3 linked regions of the Homo sapiens genome follow. The protein of the gene in region 1 interacts with the protein of each later gene in a pairwise test. Each region holds a gene or a part of one and is shown on either strand. Other genes may lie near its edges.

Evidence for each region.
Region 2: the proteins of TMEM14B (region 1) and GDAP1 interact in binary tests that used the Homo sapiens proteins (3 or more experiments, as listed by UniProt).
Region 3: the proteins of TMEM14B (region 1) and PTPMT1 interact in binary tests that used the Homo sapiens proteins (3 or more experiments, as listed by UniProt).

Annotation. Positions count from the first base shown.
Region 1 is NC_000006.12:10,743,939-10,750,829, forward strand, and holds the start of TMEM14B (transmembrane protein 14B), read left to right. Parts: upstream 1-3,866; 5' UTR 3,867-3,943; intron 3,944-5,263; coding exon of another isoform or gene 5,264-5,307; coding exon 5,308-5,330; intron 5,331-5,683; coding exon 5,684-5,760; intron 5,761-6,891. UniProt on the Homo sapiens protein: Primate-specific protein involved in cortical expansion and folding in the developing neocortex. May drive neural progenitor proliferation through nuclear translocation of IQGAP1, which in turn promotes G1/S cell cycle transitions.
Region 2 is NC_000008.11:74,353,378-74,360,402, reverse strand, and holds part of GDAP1 (ganglioside-induced differentiation-associated protein 1), read right to left. Parts: intron 267-7,025; coding exon 93-266; intron 1-92. UniProt on the Homo sapiens protein: Regulates the mitochondrial network by promoting mitochondrial fission.
Region 3 is NC_000011.10:47,560,838-47,568,598, forward strand, and holds the start of PTPMT1 (phosphatidylglycerophosphatase and protein-tyrosine phosphatase 1), read left to right. Parts: upstream 1-4,761; 5' UTR 4,762-4,785; coding exon 4,786-4,959; coding exon of another isoform or gene 4,960-5,068; coding exon 5,069-5,149; intron 5,150-7,761. UniProt on the Homo sapiens protein: Lipid phosphatase which dephosphorylates phosphatidylglycerophosphate (PGP) to phosphatidylglycerol (PG).

The DNA.
Region 1 (6,891 bases):
AGAGATTCAAGCATTTTAATTTGATCTGTGAGCTTTTCTGCTCACTGATCTCTGAGGTAGTATACCTGGAGGCCATCGCATTTCCCACATGATAACAATTCATATCAAAATACGGAATCCATTTGGGGAAGTCAGGTAGATTGCTTCCCTTTTCTTCCTGAGAATGGATAGTCTGCATATAGTCTTAGCCGTCCATGTGTTGAATGATCAACTTTTCTATTTATGTAGAACAGGTTTTAATCACACATACACTCCTTCCTGATACAATTCCCCATGTGTAAGCATCCATCTCCACCTTCCTTGCTCCATTGTTTATCCGACAGCCATGAAGTGAGTGCTCACCATGTGTGCCAGGTGCTATCCTAGATTCTGAGGGCTAAAAGGAAAAACACAACCCTTCTGAAAGACACAGCTTTGGTAAATAAATTAACATATTGAATGCAATGGCCTGGGGCAGTCATGGGCAGCTTGACTGATTAGTGAAATGTTGAGTTTTTGAATGACACAGGGCCCATGATGTCAACTCAATTTTTCATTTTTCTTTTCTTTTTTTTGGAAATGGAGTCTCCCTCTGTCACCCAGGCTGGAGTGCAGTAGAGTGATCTCGGCTTACTACAACCTCTGCCTCCTAGGTTCAAGCGATTCTTCCATCTCAGCCTCCTGAGTAGCTGGGATTACAGGCGTGCACCATCACACCCGGCTATTTTTTTTTTTTTGTATTGTTAGTAGAGACAGCGTTTCACCATGTTGGCCAGGCTAGTCTCGAACTCCTGACCTCAGGTGATCCATGTGCCTCAGCCTCCCAAAGTGATGGGATTACAGGCGTGAGCCACCGCTCACAGCCTATTTCAGATTTTAAAAGACTCTTCACTGCAAGAAACAAATGCAACTCTGGATGTCCTAAGCTTCAACAGAGGACGTGGGGGTAAGTACATGAGAAGGACACAGGTGTATCTGGCTGAGGCCAAGGCAGGAAGAACCAGAGCCAGGGTACAGCCAGGGCAAACTGTACATGTGGCCTTTGTTCTCCTGTCTGCCGACCACCCCTCTCATTTCTCACTCCACATCTACTTGTCCATTCAACACATGTTTACTGAGTACTGGTTATGGGCCAGGCACTGTGCTAAATGCTGCATAAATATCATCACTCCCATGAAACAAACATGCAAAAAAGGGGGAGGTAGGCTCTACGATGATTAAGCCAGTTACAGAGCAGGTTAGCAGGGAATTGTCATGGAAGGAAAGATGCTGTCGGGGGAAATGCAGATGAGTTGAAGTTTTAAATCAGGTGATTAGGGAAGGTCTCTCTGAGAAGTGACATTTGCGTAAAGACAGAAAGGAGGAGAGGGCGTGAACCAGGAGATTGTCTGGGGAGGCGTTCCAGGCAGATGAAGCAGCTGAGGGCAAGAAGGAAACACAAGTGAGGGGGAAAGAGAAGATGCTGATGTCAGGGAGGAGGATGTGTGGGGCTTTGCAAAGCACTGCCTGAGAAAAGGGGTGCCACCAGAGGGTTTTGGGGAGAGAAATGGCACAGTCAGACTTCTAACCCAAGTGCTCTGGTCACTGTGTTGAGAACAGACTAAGAGACAGAAAAAAGACTCTTCACTGCAAGAAACAAATGCAGAGTTAGGACAGCTCTGCCATTTGCTGTGTGACCTTGTAGTCTGTGCCTCAATTTCTTCCATGTGTAAAGCAGGAGATAATCATAGTCGTCACTGCACAGAGTTGGTATGAAGTGTAAGTTAGTTAACATATGTAAAGCGCTTCCAACAGTGGCAGATAATAAGAACTGCATATGCTTCTGCTAATATTTTTATGGCTCCAATGAATATGATCCAGAAGTAGATGGCAGATAGGTTAGGTTAAGAAAATAGGCGGTTTTTTTTTTATGATTTCATTTATTTCTTGGGGAAAGAGTTATTGACCTTGCTCTTCAAACAAACCTATAAAATACTCCCAAAGATGTAGAAATTGGTATTGTAGACACTTGATAGACATGAATTACCTGGGCAGACTGCAACTTGGGATTTGTTTTTGACGTTTTTGTTCAGGGACTTCTTAATTTGTAAAGTCAACACATTCAGGCTCCAAAAATGCTAAACTAATGCTTACATTGAAGCTCAATTCCCTTTCTTCATGAGCTCTTGTGTTGTGGGAGATGATCTCTACTGCTCTTGCTGTGTGAGTACACACCTGTGTGTGTACCTGTGTTTGTCTACCAGACACAATTCTTACTCAAAGCCTCTTTGTGGGAAAAACAAAACAAAACACCCAAACCTACTGATAGGCCTCAGTGACCAAAGACTAGAAACTTAACATTCCCTGACATAATTTTGATTACACCCTTTTGACACATTTGTGTTCCAGGGTTCCGATAATTCAGTGGGCCCCCAGTGAAGAGCTAAGCTATCTCCTAACAACGTTAATGCCAACTAGAAATATTCCCAAACACAAATCATTGATTGTTTTACTCTGGTACTAATTGAAATAGAGCAGAAACCAATTTCTTTAATTTATTTTATGACATGTTTTGATGGACTTTACCTACACAGAAGAGCTATGTGTTCTGGTTGAGGAACGACACTGCAAGAAGCAGCATATGGTAGAATTAAGGACGCAGGCTTTGACATTAGACCTTACTTTAAATAATAGCTCTACCAGTGACCAGGACTGTAGGTAATTTAATTCTCTGAGGTTCAGCCTCTTCAAGTATAAGGTGGGGAAGGGCTCGAGGATCATGGTGGATGATCCTAATTAAGGTTTGAGGCTTGCACCTGCATAGGGAAGAATGAGTCCCTAAAGCCATTCCCTGCTGGTTAAGACAAGTCTCATTAATTGTTCAGGAAAGTCTTCAATTAAATTGAAGGTCTGGCATACTGCAATTCCTGCAAGTTCTTAGTTATTATCAGCTCTGGCTGGTTAGAAGCAGCTATGATAAACACGGGCTTCAATTTAGCTATCTGGAAGGTAGGTGCTGCTGCAAGTGGAAAGTTTGTCTTTAAGAATATGCGCTGCAATTTGCTTTATTCACTGATGATTATATTGATCGGAGTTGTCTATGTTGATACTTGTAGGGGATGAAGGAGAGGGAGAAGTCAACGATGACAGCAAATTTTAGTGTAGAGCAACTGAGCGAATGGTGGTGCAGGAAACACAGAAGAGGAGCGGCTCGGAAGTGGGAATGGAGATAACATCATACTGTGGACATTCGGAATCCACAGAGCTGCGTGGAAATCAGATTTAACTTGCTCTCTCTCCCCATTTAAGATGCTTCTCAAGTAGCCTCACTCCCTAAAACAAACGGATATTTGGCATTGCGCCACATTATTCTGCAGCTGCCATATTTTCTTGCAGGTGGAAGGCAGGCCCTTCCTGGTGTAAACAAACAAGATCGGGCCAGAGTGACAATCCTCCCTGATGGCCCGCACCTGGTTTATACCCTCTATTAATGGGGTCCTTCAAAATCATCAGATGCCCTCCTCCCGCAGCGGTGGCCTCCACCTCTGGCCTGGCCCAGCTTACGTGGTCCAGCTTGTGCAAGATCCAATTCCAACTCCGGGTTTCCGGCTTTTGGCCACTCAGGATTGGACCTGGGACTGGAGCTGGTCGGCCCTGCAGGTGCTGGGCCTGGGGACTGAGGAAGCACAGAGATTCCCCGCCCGGTTCCCCGCCAACGGCGCTAGCCGCGATGCCCCGCCTCACTCCCCGCCCCCGGGATGCAGGGCGCGTGCTGGTAATCCGCGGCTCAAGCCCCGCCCCCACTGTCCCCATTCTCCGCTCACCTCTCTCCAAGGACACTGCGCACGCGCCACGACGTCCCGCCTTTCTCCCCGCCCTGCCGCGGCCCCGGGGCGCAGCGCGCACGCAATCGCGTTTCCGGAGAGACCTGGCTGCTGTGTCCCGCGGCTTGCGCTCCGTAGTGGACTCCGCGGGCCTTCGGCAGGTCGGTGCAGGTCTTTGGAGAGTATTGTTTTTATTTTCTGCCACTTTTAACTTTTAGGGATTATTTAGGAGTTTCACGGCCGTCTGCTTTTCGTCCCCCCGATTCAGCGGGCCTTTATGCCGTGTGGTCGGTGCTTTTCTCCTTGGGTATTTTCTGCTTGTCTTAAAAGAGGCTGTGGATGCTCGGAGCACCTGAGCTCCTGAGGCAAAGGCTTACCCTTGTAGCATAGTGTTGCCTCGTTTCCTGGTGGTTTTGTTGCTCCAGCTCTTTAAAAGCCTCCCTTACTCAGTGCCGCCTCGAGTTAAGAACTGTGGGCAAGATCCCAAGCCCGCTGCCCTTCCCCGTTTTATGGGAAATTAATTCTTTCTTTTTTTGGGGGGTGGGGAGGGGTTCTCGCTGTGTCGCCCAGCCTGGAGTGCAGTAGCCTGAATATGTCTTATTGCAGCCTCTGCCTCCTGGGCTCAAGCCATCCTCCCACCTCAGCCTCCCAAGTAGCTGGGATTACAGGTGCATGCCATCATGCCCGATTTGTGTGTGTGTGTGTGTGTTTTAATAGAATATGGGTTTCACCATGTTGACCAAGCTGTTCTCGAACTCCTAACCTCAGGTAATCCGCCTGCCTGGGCCTCCCAAAGTACTGGGATTACAGGCGTGAGCCACTTTGCCTGGCCTAATTCTTTAAACAGAATAAACGGCGTATGCATTGCTTTCCATCTTGTTAGGTTCACTGCATACAGAATACTTTTCTGTAAGAAAATAGGAGCTGTTTTTCCAAGGGTGCAATGTCACATGTGATTCTGACTTGAGTTTCCGTGTATTTTACCCTCCCCTTCTGCCCTCCTAACGAGAACTGTGAGTTGGATGCAGAAGTTTCTAAAAAAAAAAATTGAGTATTGAAATTGGCTGTTGCATCAGTGAAGAAAAGCAACATCCCTACCACCCCTCAAAAGAGACATTAAAGTAGTTGGATTAAGGGCACGGGAGTATTTGCTTTCCGATTTAGTGATAATGTGAGTGCTTAATGAAATGACTAACACATTCCCTGATTATAGAGCTGGTCAGTGGATCTTGCTGAGTTTCCTGTGGACCTATGTGAAATGATCGGCATCTGTTCAGGGTTTACTAGGTGCTAAGCACCTTTACATGTGACATCCATTGAATGCTCACAACACCCCCAGGAAATTGGTACCAGTGTTATCCTCATGGTACAGTGAAGGATACTGAGACTTAGGTTGCATAGCCTGCAGGTTGGACACACTTCTTTCTGACTGCTGGGGAGCTGTGCTTTTAACCACTGCTGATCCGGCTTGTTTTCCCCAGATGCAGGCCTGGGGTAGTCTCCTTTCTGGACTGAGAAGAGAAGAATGGAGAAGCCCCTCTTCCCATTGTGAGTAGACAGTAAATGGTTAGAGAGTAGCCAGGAGCTTCTGGAAACCAGAGTTCCTTTCCTCAGCTGAAAAGAACCCTAAGAGTAGACTGCCTGGGATGGCGTGCGGGATGGGAGGATCACTGGACCTGTGGGCCAGAAACTTGGGTTTGAGTCCCAGCTCTAGCTTTGCTTAGTTGTGTGACTCTCAGAAAGTCATCCAACCTCTGTGGTGCTTATTTTCAGTGATAGTACCTGTGGGCACATAGGACCTGTGGGGAATGATTACCTTTTAGCCCCATCCTATGACAATATGGTTTGTTTTTAAATCCAGGTTAGCACTGACTTCTCACTGACTTCTCTTGTGTTTTCAGAGTGCCTTTGCATTGGTTTGGCTTTGGCTACACAGCACTGGTTGTTTCTGGTGGGATCGTTGGCTATGTAAAAACAGGTAGGGTTTTGTTGTTACTTAGCCTCTTAACATCTTCACGTTGTTCCAGTGAAATGTGAGTGCCTGTGTCCCTGAGAAGCAATCTCGTTTGACTCAGCTTTGCTGTAGGTCCCCAAGCTGGAGTGCAGGCTTCCTTGTCAGTCTTGCAGCTCCTGCCCTTGCCTTTTGCTTATCTGGTGAAGCTGAGCCAGGCCTCTTGTGGAATTACTTATTTTTGCCTCTTTATCTAAAGGTAGGCAGGGGTGGTTGTAGTTTGTTATTATCATTGACTGCCATTCATCAGCCATGACCCCCAAGTGCCATCTCTGGGCTTAAGTAGGAGTCAACCTCTGGCCTACACAGACTGGTATTTTGAAGTTTCCTCATTAGGCCAGGCAGGGGTGTGTCAGTGGCTGTGCTTGTTTTTGCCCCCTAGTCCTTGCCTGCATTCCCACCCCAATCCCTGCACCAGACTTCTTATTCTCCTGATCTTCTATTTTTTTTTTAACTGCCTGGCCCTATTTCCTTCTGCTTTTGTGATTTGCTGGAGGTCCTGCCTGTACACAATTCCAGCCCTTCATGGTTGATGAGGCCTGATTAGAAAGTGTTGTACTTGAGCGAGTTAGAGAAAACGCCACACTTTGAGACGAATTAAGAGTCTGTTTATTTAGCTGGGGCCTAAAAGACGGCTAACACTCAAAGTTCTCTCGGCCTTGAAGAAGGGGCTAGATTTTCTTTTATACTTTGGTTTAGAATGGGGTGGGGGGGGGGTCTAGTTAAAACAATTTTACTGAAGTAAAGTAGGCAAAAAAGTTAAAAGGATAAATGGTTACAGGAAAGTAAACAGTTCCAGGTGCAGGGGCTTTAAGACTATTACAAGGTGATGGACGCGGGGCTTTGGGCATTATCAATCGGACGAATTCCTGGGAACTGCGGATATAGCTCGCCACAGTATCTTATCAGTTAATTGCATTCTTGGATGTGCTGGGAGTCAGCTTGCACAAGTTAAGTCCTTGAGGACGGGGCTGCCAGTGAAAGAGCCAAGATGGAGTCTGTCTGGCTCTCTTAGCTAAGGAAGAGTCAATTCAGGTGGAAACAAGGCTAGGTGATTAAAGGAAAGGGAGAGTCTAAAAACAGGGTTAGTAAAAACAA
Region 2 (7,025 bases), on another chromosome or scaffold:
CTTCTTTTAGTGACCATGAGACATGCTAGGTCTCAAAATGAATTAAAAGAAAGTGTCAGACAGAATTCCAGGTCTTTAAAATGTTTACATACTACGAATCCTTGTAGTTGCATAAGCCGGGATCATGGAGTCCACAGTTAACTCAGGATGTAAAATGCAGCCATGTGTATAGGCATCCATTGGCAAGGAGTCAAGCAGCTCTCGGTAATGTTGTACCCGTGGGTAATACATGCTTTCTTTATCAGGCATTAACCTGGGTGTTCTTTCTAAAATACACACACACAAATATTGAAGAAAAAGTTACACATGAGTTGTTACACTCAAAAGCAAAACAAAAACACTATCCACTCATCATTAACATTTTCAACATATCTGTATATTCAAAAAACACTGTCTCCTCACCTCAGACATTCATTCAAAGTTTGAAATGGCCTGATGCACCAGACAAGATCCCAAACCATAATCACATTGGTATTCTCTCATTTCTTCACCTTGCAAACTGCACTCAGCCCTCAAGGCCCAGTTATTTATGCCATTTATTCCATGAAGCATTCCCTAACCTCCTACAACTGCCAACATCTGACTGGCTCACATGTGCCTTCTTCTATACATCCATAACACATTACACACACTCTGTTACAGCCCTTATCACACTGTAATTCATTGCATCTTTTTTCCCCATGACTGTCTTCAGGGAAAGGAACCTGCAATCCAGAGTCTAGCACAGTTCTCCACACACTTGAGGCCCTCAATAAAGTTTGGTTAATTGAATGAGGGCTCATTATGGAAAGATAATCAGGGGCTACTCTTTTCTAGGTGCCAACCAACATCAAGAGTGACCCTACTGACACATGTGAATGTGAATGACAATCTATATGGAACAGGAAAGGCCTTTGCTCAAATATCGCAGGTGCACTTTCCCCAGGAATTTCTAACAATTATCTCTGGAAAGTGGGTTCTACATACATCCTTATTTGCTAGTTAAAATCCAAACTGTAGAGTCCTTGAGGGCAGGGACCATGTACTGCTCTCTGTTAAATCCCCAGTGCCTAGTATAATGTTTGACATGTAGTAGGTGTTTAATAAATTACAATGAATACATTCCAAAATTTCCAATTATTATATAGATTACTTGAGCTGGAGAAGTGCTGCAGGAGTTAACATGTACACTCAGATACAAGGGCTGAAAATTTCTCCCAAGATCCCACAGCTAATTAGAGGCAGAGCTAGAACTAAAGTCATCTGATTCCTAATGTAATGTTCTCTTTGATTATACCATCATAACATTTTCAAAGGATTTTCATTTCATAGACTATCGAAAAAGAATAAAAGTGAAGGATGCAACCCAAAGGTCAGGGCTATGTCCCTTCAGAATCTCTTCCTATCTCTGGCTGTCAAACTGTCCCTAAAAAATGTCAGGTCTAATAACTATCACAATTTCAAAATATTAAGATATCTGCAATAACTTAACCATGAACATATCTGTGAGTTCTATTGGTTATCAAAGCCAGAAGCACTCCTGATATTGCCATGGATTGTGCCTACATTGCTAATGGAAGGAAATAATTCCTTTAAATAGAGATACAATTATTCCCTATCCAAGATCTCAAATCTCCTGAATTCTATTCATAAACCCCTAAGCGCAACAGTTCTCACACTATGGTCTGAGGATCCCTGGGTTTTCCTAAAACATGTTTGGGGGATCTACAAAGATATTTTTATAGAAATACTAAGACGTTAATTACTTTTTCACTCTTATTCTCTCTCAAGTGTACAGTAGAAGTTTCCAGAGGCTACAGGAAACATGACTCTATCACTCTGACAGCTAGTGGGATTGTGCTTAACCAGGCTAATATTTTAAGTTTTCTCAGTTTTGCTTTCTAAATGGTAAATATTGATAGCTATGATCCACATAAACAAATGCTCTCTGGTATCCTCAAAGACAAAGGGGTATAGAGACCAAAAAGTTTAAGAACTAATGCTTTAGGGGTCCAAGAACCTCAGGCTAATAACCCTAAATAGTACATTTTCAAATGCTTCCCAAAAGGTCCAAGTAATGGCTAGTGGCTCTGGCTGCTTTCTGGTACTGGGCCCTGGGGCTTCTCTCCAGAAGAGCATACCATTTCCTTCCTAGGAAAGTGAATGAGAGCAGGAAAAACAATGTCTAATTGCTTTCTGGGGAAGATCCATCAGGCCAAGCCCAAATTCTTCAAGGAGGACAAATGTTTAAATCCATGAAAATAATTTTCTTCTACTCAGTGTGCCGTTACTGTCTAACCATTTCCTGAAGCACTCTGTCAGAGCATGAGATACCCACTGAACCCAAGTTATCTCCCCATCTCTCTTTCTTTGTGCGCATCAAGCATGCCCTCTCCAGTATCACAGGGGCACTGCGCTGCCATCCTCACACTGAAGCACAACAGTATCTGCTGCTTCTGATAAAAGAGTTTTTCAAAGGAAAACTGGGAATTTCCTTTGAATTATAGAGGAGATCTTCCCTCTCAATCCCATCCTATTTTATTTTCCAGTTCTTCCGTAGAGTACCTTTATCAAAATACCAAAAGCAAGAATTTTTTTCTCAGTAATGTACCTCAATCAGGAGTGGGAAAGCAACATAAGGCATAGCGGGGCAGGACAGAGAATTAGGGAGTTTTAAGAAGCAGGCAATGAGAGGAGGTCCCAGCATTGGGGAGTGGGATTGCAACAGTGGAAATGAGGCTTGGTATTAAGCTAGAAGAACAAATAAGTTGGCACAAGATCCGACTTGCCGGAAGAACTGAGTAGGGGAAAAGTTTTATATTACACATAAATTTAGGCAGCAAATTATAAACCAGCAGATAGACATAAAGCAGAAAGATTTGATAAACAGCAGAGGAAACCAAAAGAAGCAAAAAATAAAATCAGAAAGAAACAATAAAAGCATTCTGCAGCCATGTAATGGAGACAAATGGGCCTCTACATTCTCAAGTCCCTGTAATGCTGAGTAAAATAACAATGGCTCTGAGCCATTTTTTTAAATTACATTTGGTTTTCCCAAGAGTAAAACATAAAAAGAAATTAGGGGCTTAAAGGCATAAGTTTTCATTATTTTACAAAATTCACTACTCTGGTTACCCATCTTTCCTAGTAAAGGCAGATAAAGGAGGCATTATTATGCCTTGTTTTCAAGAAAGACTCCCCTAGGTCTACTTGTACAACTTTCAAGTCTCCCTTACTACTAGCTCAATGGAAACAGATTAGATTTCATTCCTCACTCTAGCCCTTTGCTGTTTATTTTACTTAGACTGTATAGTGATTGCATCAGTATATAATATGCATAATACAGCTGAATAATATTGTACCCTTCAACTAGTCACACACTAGGCTATTTTTAAAAAATTCAATAATAGGCTGGGCACGGTGGCTCATGCCTGTAATCCCAGCACTTTGGGAGGCCAAGGCAGGCAGATCACGAGGTCAGGAGATCGAGAGACCATCCCGGCCAACATGGTGAAACCCCGTCTCTACTAAAATACAAAAAATTAGCCGGGCGTGGTGGTGCGCGCCTATAGTCCCAGCTACTCGGGAGGCTGAGGCAGGGGAATCGCTTGAACCCAGGAGGTGGAGGTTGCAGGGAGCCGAGATTGCGCCACTGCACTCCAGCCTGGTGACAGAGCGAGACTCCGTCTCAAAAAAAAAAAAAAAAATATATATATATATACACACACACAAACACACACACACACACACACACACACACACACTAAATAATATTAAACAATTAAGTTATGACCTGAGGCAAAAGATATGGTAGCAAACTGATTGATTACAATTCAGTGCTGTCATAACTCTTGAACTAGAAAGAGCAAATCTAAATACAGATAAGAAAAAAAACAAAAAGACCCGGTGTCAAATTATATCAGTTCACTGTATGCATCCAGGATTTTGAGACAAATTTATAGCATTATTGTCAATAAATTTTATGCACTATACATTAAATGTTTAACTACTTTTAACTGGTATTACAGTTAAGACTTTTAACAGAAACATTTTTAATGATGGAAGCAAAAATTCCTTTATCAGACAGTTTGTTCCAATTGTTAGATACATATTATATAGAAAGAGGGCCTCTGAATTTTAATACCCCCAACCTGTCTGCTAAAACTGGACAAATCACAAAGAGAAGAAAAGTTACTTTTTAAAGCAACTTTTACTGACACAATAATCAAAGACTGATATTCTTTTCCATGCCATATGGTATATTTTCTCCACATTTTGTGCTAATCTGCAATTTCAGTATATGTGCTAAAAGGCCTATATTCAACTATATACAAGAGCCTTTTCTTGATGAACACAAATATAAATATTAATTGGTAATTCCTTAAATAACTATTTTTAATATAACAGTGACATCAGAATTAACGTTCTTTTTTAAATGTTACATTTGATGAAATTCAAATGTAACATTTAAATGTATTTTATAAATAACATTGTATCTATAAATTTAGATATCCTAATAAGATTTACGTGATTTTAATATCATACTAGAATAGTTTATTTCCAAACTAAATTCTATTTCCTAAGAATAAATTATATATCTAGACATAAGACATGAACGTGATGTTCAGAGAACTGTTACATTAAATCACAAAAATCCATTATTCTTGATTCCAGGTTACCAGAGTTATTTGGTAGTAATACATATGTTCTAGTATTTTATAGTTATTCCATATAATTTTGATTAGTAGCCAAGTTAAATTTTATTTAAAGAGGTTATGAGTACAATAGATAGATTGAAAAATCCACATTTGTGTGTACATTCACCTTGTCACATCCATTCTTTCTCAGTTTACCTAGTTTGCTTACTCTCATACCTTATCTAGCTTAATCAATTGCTTGCTGTAAAATAACTATTCCTCACCACATGCTCAGAGTTAAAGAGGTATCATGTACATGAAAGAGTCTATAAAACTGTACAGTAATAGCAAGTATATATGTTAAGGACAGATTTGGAATTATCAGCAAACTTATAGAAAGAAATTATCTTTGAAGACTAGCAAGCTGCTAATGATTTCGGATCTTTAAAACATCTCTGAAGTATCCCAGGACCCTATACCAAATTAATACCCAATAAATGGTTACTTAAAGAATAAATGAAGAGATAGCTCTCGGCCAGCTCTTAGTTTGGCAGTCAGGAGCATCATTCATGTCTATACCATTCTTCTGTATGACTGCTTTCCAAAAAAAAATCAAATACAGCCATTATCCAACAGATATTCACTATTTCAGGCTATGACTTGAAAAGGGTGACCTCAGCTACCAAACTACCAATTATTTAATGAACTATCCCGAAAGTACAAGGATAGAAATATGTAAATGTAAACAAAAAAGTTGAAAAATGTTTCTAGATCAGCAAGTCATCGTTTTTCGCATAATCCCCACTGGATCGATAACAAGGGACAGCAAATAACAGTGAAGGACATACTGGTTCACTACATTCTGTTCTTTAGAGGAATGGCTACACTTACAGTCTCCTGTCATGACCATGGGCGACTGCACACCTCATGAAATCCATCCACTTATTCTATCTCATCAACATTCCTCAAAGTTACATCCATAATTGGACAAAATGTCAACTATTCCAAACAGCTCAGAATGCAGAGGGTTACAACTCACCCTGTTCTCAACAAAATTTACAGTTTTCAAAGAACCTGAAATCACACTAGCCATTTGTTTTAACATTGGTAACTTACTATCTATTAACCAGGTTCCCCATTCTTTTGGAATGCAGCTGGTTTTTTAAAACAAAAGTCTCATGCCTATTTTCCTCATAGCCATTTTACATTTAGCCTTGTTAAACTTTATCTTATTTTTCCATTTTGTTGTATTTCCATAAGAAATATTTTATAAGCTAGTCATCACTTTGACTATTTACCTTTTCTGTCATTCACAAATGTAATCGTATTTCTTCCATGTCTATTCAAATCATTGATTTGTTAGGCTCAAGTCAAAAAAGAAGCCTACAAGAACATTACAAGGGATCCCTGTACAGGCTAACATCTGTTTCAATAATTTATTCATTTTAATCATTCAAAATATTTATTAAGCACCTATTAAGAAACATTCACTGTATAAGGCATTGGGGATAATTTTTCATAAGATACACTATTCCCAACCTCATGGTACTTACAGTGGTGTACAATTCAAACATTTAAAATAAAGTATAAAAACAATTATAAGTAAAATGAGAGTCTATAGTTGAAGAGGTAATCTGGTATGAGAAATCTATAAAGTAATATTCTTTAATATGGTAGTTTATTCATCTGCAAATGTGCGTTACAATCTTCTAGCTATATTTGCTCCTTTATTCCACAAGGGTATATGTAACGTAATCGCAAATGTTCTACTTAAATCAAGATATACTATATCTAGAACCATGCCTGGCACATAATAGACAGTTTTTTAGAAGTGTTAGGGACATTCTCCAGCAGTGTAAAACTTAAATTGGTTCCTTTCACTGAGATACACAAAAATTTTAACATATTTAAATAACTATTCACAATCTATTCTAAATTTCCACCAGATTTAAAGACAGTAATTTACACCAGTGCTTACTTAACTAAACACTAATTTATAGCAGTATTCTCAAACTTTAATGTACATACGAATCACATGGGGCTCTTGTTAAAACAAAGATTCTAATTTGATAGGTCTGCAGAGAGCTCTAAGGTTCTGCAGTTCTAACAAGCTCCCAGGTGACACCAATGCTGCTGATGAATGGAACATACAATTAGTAGCAAGGGTTGGTAGAATTCACTTTTCCCCGTCTTTGACAATAGGATGTTTGTCTATCTTGTCTGACTTTCATTCTCCATGAGTTCTTAAAGATAAAGCATCTTAATTATAATTGTGATAACGCTGTTTTTAAAATTTCAGTACTCTGAGATAAACTTCTTCTTGACCTCGATTTATATAACTTAGCCTTGATTTATATAAACTATTGTTCTCTTGCTGTCGTCCTATCTACCATAAGTTTTGGGTCCCTT
Region 3 (7,761 bases), on another chromosome or scaffold:
ACATTTAAAAGTTTATTCTGGCTGGGCGCAGTGGCTCACGCCTGTAAGCCCAGCACTTTGGGAGTCCGAGGCGGACAGATCACGAGGTCAGGAGATCGAGACCATCCTGGCTAATATGGTGAAACCCCGTCTCTACTAAAAATACAAAAAATTAGCCGGGCGTGGTGGTGGGCGCCTGTAGTCCCAGCTACTTGAGAGGCAGAGGCAGGAGAATGGCATGAGCCCGGGAGGCAGAGCTTGTATTGAGTGGAGATCATGCCACTGCACTCTAGCCTGGGCAACAGAGTGAGACTCTGTCTCAAAAAAAAAAAAAAAAAGTGTATTTCGCTGGGTGAGGTGGCTCAGGCCTGTAATCCCAGCATTTTGGGAGGCCGAGACAGGTGGATCACGAGGTCAGGAGATTGAGACCATCCTGGCTAACACGGAGAAACCCATCTCTACTAAAAATACAAAAAATAAGCCGGGTGTGGTAGCGGGCGCCTGTAGTCCCAGCTACTTGGGAGGCTGAGGCAGGAGAATGGCATGAACCCAGGAGGCGGAGCTTGCAGTGAGCCGAGATCGCACCACTGCACTCCAGCCTGGGCGACAGAACGAGACTCCGTCTCAAAAAAAAAAAAAAAAAAAAAAAGTTTATTCCACAAAGAGACACCACACCCACTAAAATGGCTATAATGAAAGACAGATAATAAGTGTTGGCAACCATGTGGCAACATTGGAACCCTCCATACTCTCCTGGTGGGGATGCAAAAAGGTGCAGTCCACTTTGGAAAACTGACAGTTCTTCAAAAGGTTAAACACTGTACTACCCTATGACCTAACAATTCCATGATTAGTCAAATATACAAGAGAAATGAAAACCTATGTCCGTAAGTTGTATGCAAATGTTCCCAGCAGCATTGTTCAAAATAGCCAAAAGTGGAAACAACTCAAATGTTCATAAACTGATAAATGGAGAAAAACATGTGGTCTGTCCATACATTGAAATATTATTTGGCAATAAAAAGAAGGACAGTCCTGATACTTGCTACAACATGGACGAACCTTGAAAACATTCTAAGCATAAGACAGGTATCAACACACAAGTGATATCTATTAAGAAAAAAAAAAAGCTGGGCGCAGTGGCTCACACCTGTAATCCCAGCACTTTGGGAGGCCGAGGCAGGCTGATCACCTGAGGTCGGGAGTTCGAGACCAGGCTAACCAACATGGAGAAACCCCGTCTCTACTAAAAATACAAAATTAGCCAGGAGTGGTGGTGCATACCTGTAATCCCAGATACTAGGGAGGCTGAGGCAGGAGAATTGCTTGAACCTGAGAGGCGGAGGTTGTGGTGAGCTGAGATTGTGCCATTGCACTCCAGCCTGGGTAACAAGAGCGAAACTCCATCTCAAAAAAAAAAAAAAAAAAGTTGGGTGGGGTGGCTCACACCTGTAATGCCAGCACTTAGAGAGGCTGAGGCAGGCAGATCGCTTGAGTCCAGGAGTTCGAGACCAACCTGGGCAATATGGTGAAAGCCTGTCTCTACCAAAAATACAAAAATTCGCCACCAGGTGTGGTGGTACGCACCTGTGGTCCCAGCTACTCAGGAGGCTGAGGTGGGAGAATTGCTTGAGCCCAGGAGGTAGAGGTTGCAGTGAGCTAAGATCACACCATTGCACTCCAGCCTGGGCAACAGGAGTGAAACTCTATCTCAAAAAAAAAAAAAAAAAAAAGCAGCCAGATACAAAGAACACATATTGTATGACTCCATTTATTTGAAATACCCTAGGCTGGATGCAGTGGTTCAGACCTGTAATCCCAGTACTTTGGGAGGCCAAATCAGGAGGATTGTTTGAGCCCAGGAGTTCCAGATCAGTTTTTTTTTGTTTTGTTTTGTTTTTTTTTTGATATGGAGTCTCACTCTGTCACCCAGGCTGAAGTGCAGTGGCGCGATCTTGGCTTATCACAAACTCCGCCTCCTGGGTTCAAGTGATTCTCCTGCCTCAGCCTCCCAAGTAGCTGGGATTACAGGCGCCCACTATTATACCTGGCTAATTTTTGTATTTTTTTAGTAGAGACGGGGTTTCACCATGTTGGCCAGGCTGGTCTCAAACTCCTGACCTCAGGTGATCTGCCTGCCTCTGCCTCCGCCTCCCAAAGTGCTGGGATTACAGGTGTGAGCCACTGTGCCCAGTCCCGAGATCAGTTTGGGCAACATAGTGAGACCCCATCGCTACAAATAATAAAAAATTAGCCAGGTATCGTGGCACACGTCTGTAGTCTCAACTCCTTGGGAGGCTGAGGTAGGAGGACTGCTTGCACCCAAAAGGTCGGGGCTACAGTGAGTCATGATCACGCTGCCACTGCACTCTAGCCTGGGTGACAGTGAGACCCTGTTTCCTAGAAAAAAAAAAAAGAAAAGTAAAAAGAAGAAATGCCCTCAACATGCTAAACATGTAAATCTATACAGTCAGAAAGCAGGTTAGTAGTGTTTGCCTAAGGCTGGAGGATGATTGGGAGAAAATGGTGAGTCTCTGCTAATTCATAAGGGGCTTATTTTGAGGGCAATGAAAATATTCTAAAATTAGGCTGGGTGCGGTGGCTCATGCCTGTAATCCCAGCACTTTGGGAGACCAAGGCGGGTGGAACACCTGAGGTCAGGAGTTCAAGAGCAGCCCGGCCAACATGGTGAAACCCCATCTCTATTAAAAACACACACAAAATTAGCCAGGCATGGTGGCGGGCACCTGTAGTTCTAGCTACTGGGGAGGATGAGGCAGGAGAACTGCTTGAACCCGGGAGGTGGAGGTTGCAGTGAGTGGAGATGGCGCCACTACACTTCAGCCTAGTCAATAGAAGGAGACTCCGTCTCAAAAACAAAATATAAAAAAAAGAAAATGAATCTTTTAAAACCACCAGATGGGCCGGGCATGGTGGCTTATGCCTGTAATCCCGGCACTTTGGAAGGCCGAGGGGGACGGATCTCCTCAGGTCAGGACTTTGAGACCAGTCTGGCCAACATGGTGAAACCCTGTCTCTACTAAAAATACAAAACTTAGCTGGGCGTGGTGGCAGCTACTCGGGAGGCTGAGGCAGGAGAATTGCTTGAACCTGGGAGGCAGAGGTTGCAGTGAGCTGAGATCACGCCATTGCACTCCAGCTTGGGTGACAAGAGTGAAACTCTATCTTAAAAACAAACAAACAAACAAAATCTCCACCAGATGCTTGGGCCGGGCGTGTGGCTCATGCCTGTAATCCCAACACTTTGGGAGGCTGAGGCTGGCAGATCACCATAGGTCAGGAGTTCAAGACTAGCCTGGCCAACATGGTGAAACCCCATCTCTACTAAAAATACAAAAAAAAAAAAAAAAAAAAAAAGAAAGCCGGGCGCGGTGGCTCATGCCTGTAATCCTGGCACTTTGGGAGGCCAGGGGGATGGATCACCTGAGGTCAGGAGTTTGAGACCAGCCTGGTCAACATGTTGAAGCCATCTCACTAAAAATACAAAACTTAGCTGGGCGTGGTGACATGTACCTGTAATCCCAGCTACTCGGGAGGCTGAGGCAGGAGAATTGCTTGAACCTGGGAGGCAGAGGTTGCAGTGTGCTGAGATCACGCCATTGCACTGCAGCTTGGGTGACAATAGTGAAACTCTGTCTCAAAAACAAAAAACAAAAAACAAAAACTCCACCAGATGCTTGGGCCGGGTGCAGTGGCTCATGCCTGTAATGCCAGCACTTTGGGAGGCTGAGGTGGGCGGATCACCTTAGGTTCGAGACCAGCCTGGCTGACAAGGTGAAACCTCGTCTCTACTAAAAACAAAAGTTAGCTGGGTGTGGTGGCATGCACCTGTAATCCCAGCTACTCAGGAGGCTGAGGCAGGAGAATCGTTTGAACCCGGGAGGCGGAGGTTGCAGTGAGCTGAGATCTTGCGACTGCCCTCTAGCCTGGGCAACAGAGTGAGACTCCGTCTCAAAACAAACAAACAAAAAGTAAATAGCTGGCATTACAACCATTCTTCTTACCTTTTTGTAGGTTGCAGGTTTTATATTTGAGCTCTTCATAATATTTTTCTTAAGGATATATTAATATAATGTATATTTTCCTATTTTTTCCTGCTATGTAAACACTGCTGTTTGGTCAGATGAAGGAGGGAGCCCTGCCCTAGGACAGGGGAGGGGAGGAGGAAGGCGACCTCAACCCAGGACCCCTGTTCACCCTGGGATCAGGCCCTCACCCAGGTAGCTCCTCTGTTTGAAAGCTCTAAGCCCTTCCACTGTCCTCTTCAGGGCTACCCCGCCACACAGCCTCTCCTTGTCTTGTCTTCCCTTTGGCGGGGTCACACCCGCACCTGGGTCACTGCCCCCTTCCTCTGGTCGAGGGTTGGGGGGAGTGTCCCCTCCTCCCTCGGCCGGAGTCACAGTTCCACACGCAGGGGTCCTTCCTGCCCCTCTCACCTGGGGTCACAACCCCCCTCCCTCGGAGGAGGGAGGTCACCGGCCACAGGCGGGGGCCTCAGTTTCCCACGCTACAGGGCTCACACGTGTCTGGCCTGCGACGCGCTCTCCCTTCGCCGGGGTCCCAGTTTCCCGCCCAGGAAACCTCGGTCCCTCCTCCGAGGCCGCCGGGCCCTCCTCCAGAGTCCCGCCAGTCCCCCAGAGTCCAGGCCAGTCCCCGCCGTCACCCGGTGCGAGCCCGCGAGAGGCCTAGTGCAGCTGGCAGCCCCGCCCCGGCACCCGCCTGCTCTTCTCGCGGGTCCGGACCGCGAGCGCGGGGGCCGACGGGTCGCCGCTGCGCCGGGCCGGGATGGCGGCCACCGCGCTGCTGGAGGCCGGCCTGGCGCGGGTGCTCTTCTACCCGACGCTGCTCTACACCCTGTTCCGCGGGAAGGTGCCGGGTCGGGCGCACCGGGACTGGTACCACCGCATCGACCCCACCGTGCTGCTGGGCGCGCTGCCGTTGCGGAGCTTGACGCGCCAGGTGAGCCGGGCCGGGGAGCCCGGGCCCCTGCCCCGTCCCCGCCGCTCCGTCCCTGTCGGGCCGCTGGGGTCTCCACCGTCTTTGCTGAGCCACCTCTTTGCCTCGGCAGCTGGTACAGGACGAGAACGTGCGCGGGGTGATCACCATGAACGAGGAGTACGAGACGAGGTTCCTGTGCAACTCTTCACAGGTGAGGGACCGGGCCGAGGGGCAGGCTCGGGGGCCCGCTCCCCCTCGCCCACCGCCCTGAGCCTGGGACGGCTAGAGAAGTGTGGGGGAGGTCACCATGCACCGGAGCCAGGTGTCTCAAGCTGCTTTGCCTCCGGTCTGTGCCTCTAAATGGCACCTGGAGGTAGGCTAGAAGCTGTGAAAGGCGTTTATTTAAAAGTTCAAGTTGGGCCGGGCGCGGGGACTCACGCCTGTAATCCCAGCACTTTGGGAGGCGGGAGGAGGAGGCGGGCAGATCACTTGAGCCCAGGAGTTCCTGACCAGCCTGGGCAACATGGCGAGGCCCCCGTCCCTACAAAAATACAAAAAGTAGCCGGGAGTGGTGGCGTGCGCCTGTACTCCCAGCTACTTGGGAGGCTAAGGCAGGAGAATCACTTTAGCCCGGGAGGTGGAGGTTGCAGTGAGCCGACATCTCGCCATTGCATTCCAGCCCAGCCTTGGGCGACAGGAGTGAAACAATGTCTCAAAAAAAAAAAAAAAAAAAGTGGAAGTTGACAAAGCCTGATTTCTCCTTTGTGAACAAATGTAATGTATTCTTATTTCGGTAACCAAAATCAGAAACTAAAATTGAAAGGCAACTTTCCCATGCCTTCCTGATTTCATTCATTCTTTCTATACTTTGAGCTCTGAGTATGGGTCAGCATTCCCAGTGTTAGGGATTCCAGATGAAGGCCCTGCCAACTGTAAGACGAAAAGCACCCCCTTAACACTCTCCCCTCCCCAGATTTTTCATAAAACTATCCATTGAAAACTGTAGAGTTCATTTGGCTCTGATTTGGGGGAATTTTTAGTCATATATTAGAAATCATGGTGGAACTCCAAAGTTCTCTCATAACAAAGTTTAGGCCTAAAACATAACTTTCATTAAATGTGACTGGCCTGTTTGTGGAATCTTCCACAATGGTTATTAGAAGATGTTATCTACAATCTGAGCTATTTGATTTTTTTTTAATGTTGCCCTATCTTTATAGCGTTTGGCATCTAATAGCACTAAACAATTATCTTTCTCATTTGTTTTACTGATATAGCATGATGAAGATACTATTATTTCAACCTGAGGATTTTTTTGAAACCTTGAAAATATTTGTGACTTGGCCAGGCGTGGTGGCTCTCACACCTGTAATCCCAGCACTTTGGGAGGCTGAGGTGGGTGGATCACCTGAGGTCAGGAGTTTGAGATCAGCCTGGCCAAAATGGTGAAACCCCGTCTGTACTAAAATCACACAAAAAAATTAGCCGGGCGTGGTGGCAGGCGCCTGTAATCCTAGCTACTTGGGAGGCTGAGGCAGGAGAATCGCTTGAACCCGGGAGGCAGAAGTTGCAGTGGGCCGAGATTGCACCACTGCACGCCAGCCTGGGCGACAGAGTGAGTCTCCGTCTCAAAAAAAAAAAAGAATTACTGATCTTCATTTAGAACCATAAAGTCTCTGATACTCATTATTAAGAGGTTAATAACAAGAGTAGCTGGAGCATATCTGAAGTCTTAAAGCATAAAGTTTGCCCAGTTGCCAGAGACCTTATTTCTATTTCTTTTCTTTTTTTTTTTTTTTTTTTGAGATGGAGTCTCACTCCCTTGCCCAGGCTGGAGTGCAATGGTGCAATCTCAGCTCACTGCAACCTCTGCCTCCCAGTTCAAGTGATTCTCCTGCCTCAGCCTCCCAAGTAGCTGGAATTACAGGTGCCTGCCAGCATGCCTGGCTAATTTTTGTATTTTTTATGGAGATAGGGTTTTGCCATGCTGGCCAAAGTCGTCTCGAACTCCTGACCTCAGGTGATCTGCCCACCTTGGCCTCTCAAAATCTGGGATTACAGGCGTGAGCCACCACACCTGGCCACCTATTTCTTCTAAGTGATAACATTGCACTAATGAAGGTCAGTGCATTGTTTTAATTTTATTTTTGTTTTTGTTTTTGAGACGGAGTCTTGCTCTGTCGCCTAGGCTGGAAGTGCAGTGGCACGATCTCGGCTCACTGCAAGCTCCGCCTCCTGGGTTCATGCCATTCTCCTGCCTCAGCCTCCCAAGTAGCTGGGACTACAGGCGCCTGCCACCATGCCCGGCTAATTTTTTTGTATTTTTAGTAGAGACGGGGTTTCACCGTGTTAGCCAGGATGGTCTAAATCTCCTGACCTCGTGATCCGCCCGCCTTGGCCTCCCAAAGTGCTGGGATTACAGGCATGAGCCACCATGCCCGGCCCATTGTTTTAATTTTAAAATGATAACCCTATTTTCTACCATATGTTCCCTCAAAAAACAGTGGTAAAAAAGAGACTTATGGACAGAGAAATAGAAAGCCTTGGCAAAATATTGTACCCCAAATCTGCAGCTGAATCACTACACAGGTGCCAAAATTATGCAAAAAAATTACACTGGCTGGGCCTGGTGGCTCATGCCTGTAATCCCAGCATTTTGGGAGGCTGAGACAGGAGGATGGCTTGAGGCTAGGAGATTGAGACCAGCCTGGGCAACATAGCGAGACCCCCATCTGCACACACACAAAAATAACAAAATTAGCCAGGCACAGTGGCATGCAGCTGTAGTCACAGCTACTTGGGAGGCTGAGGTGGGAGGACTGC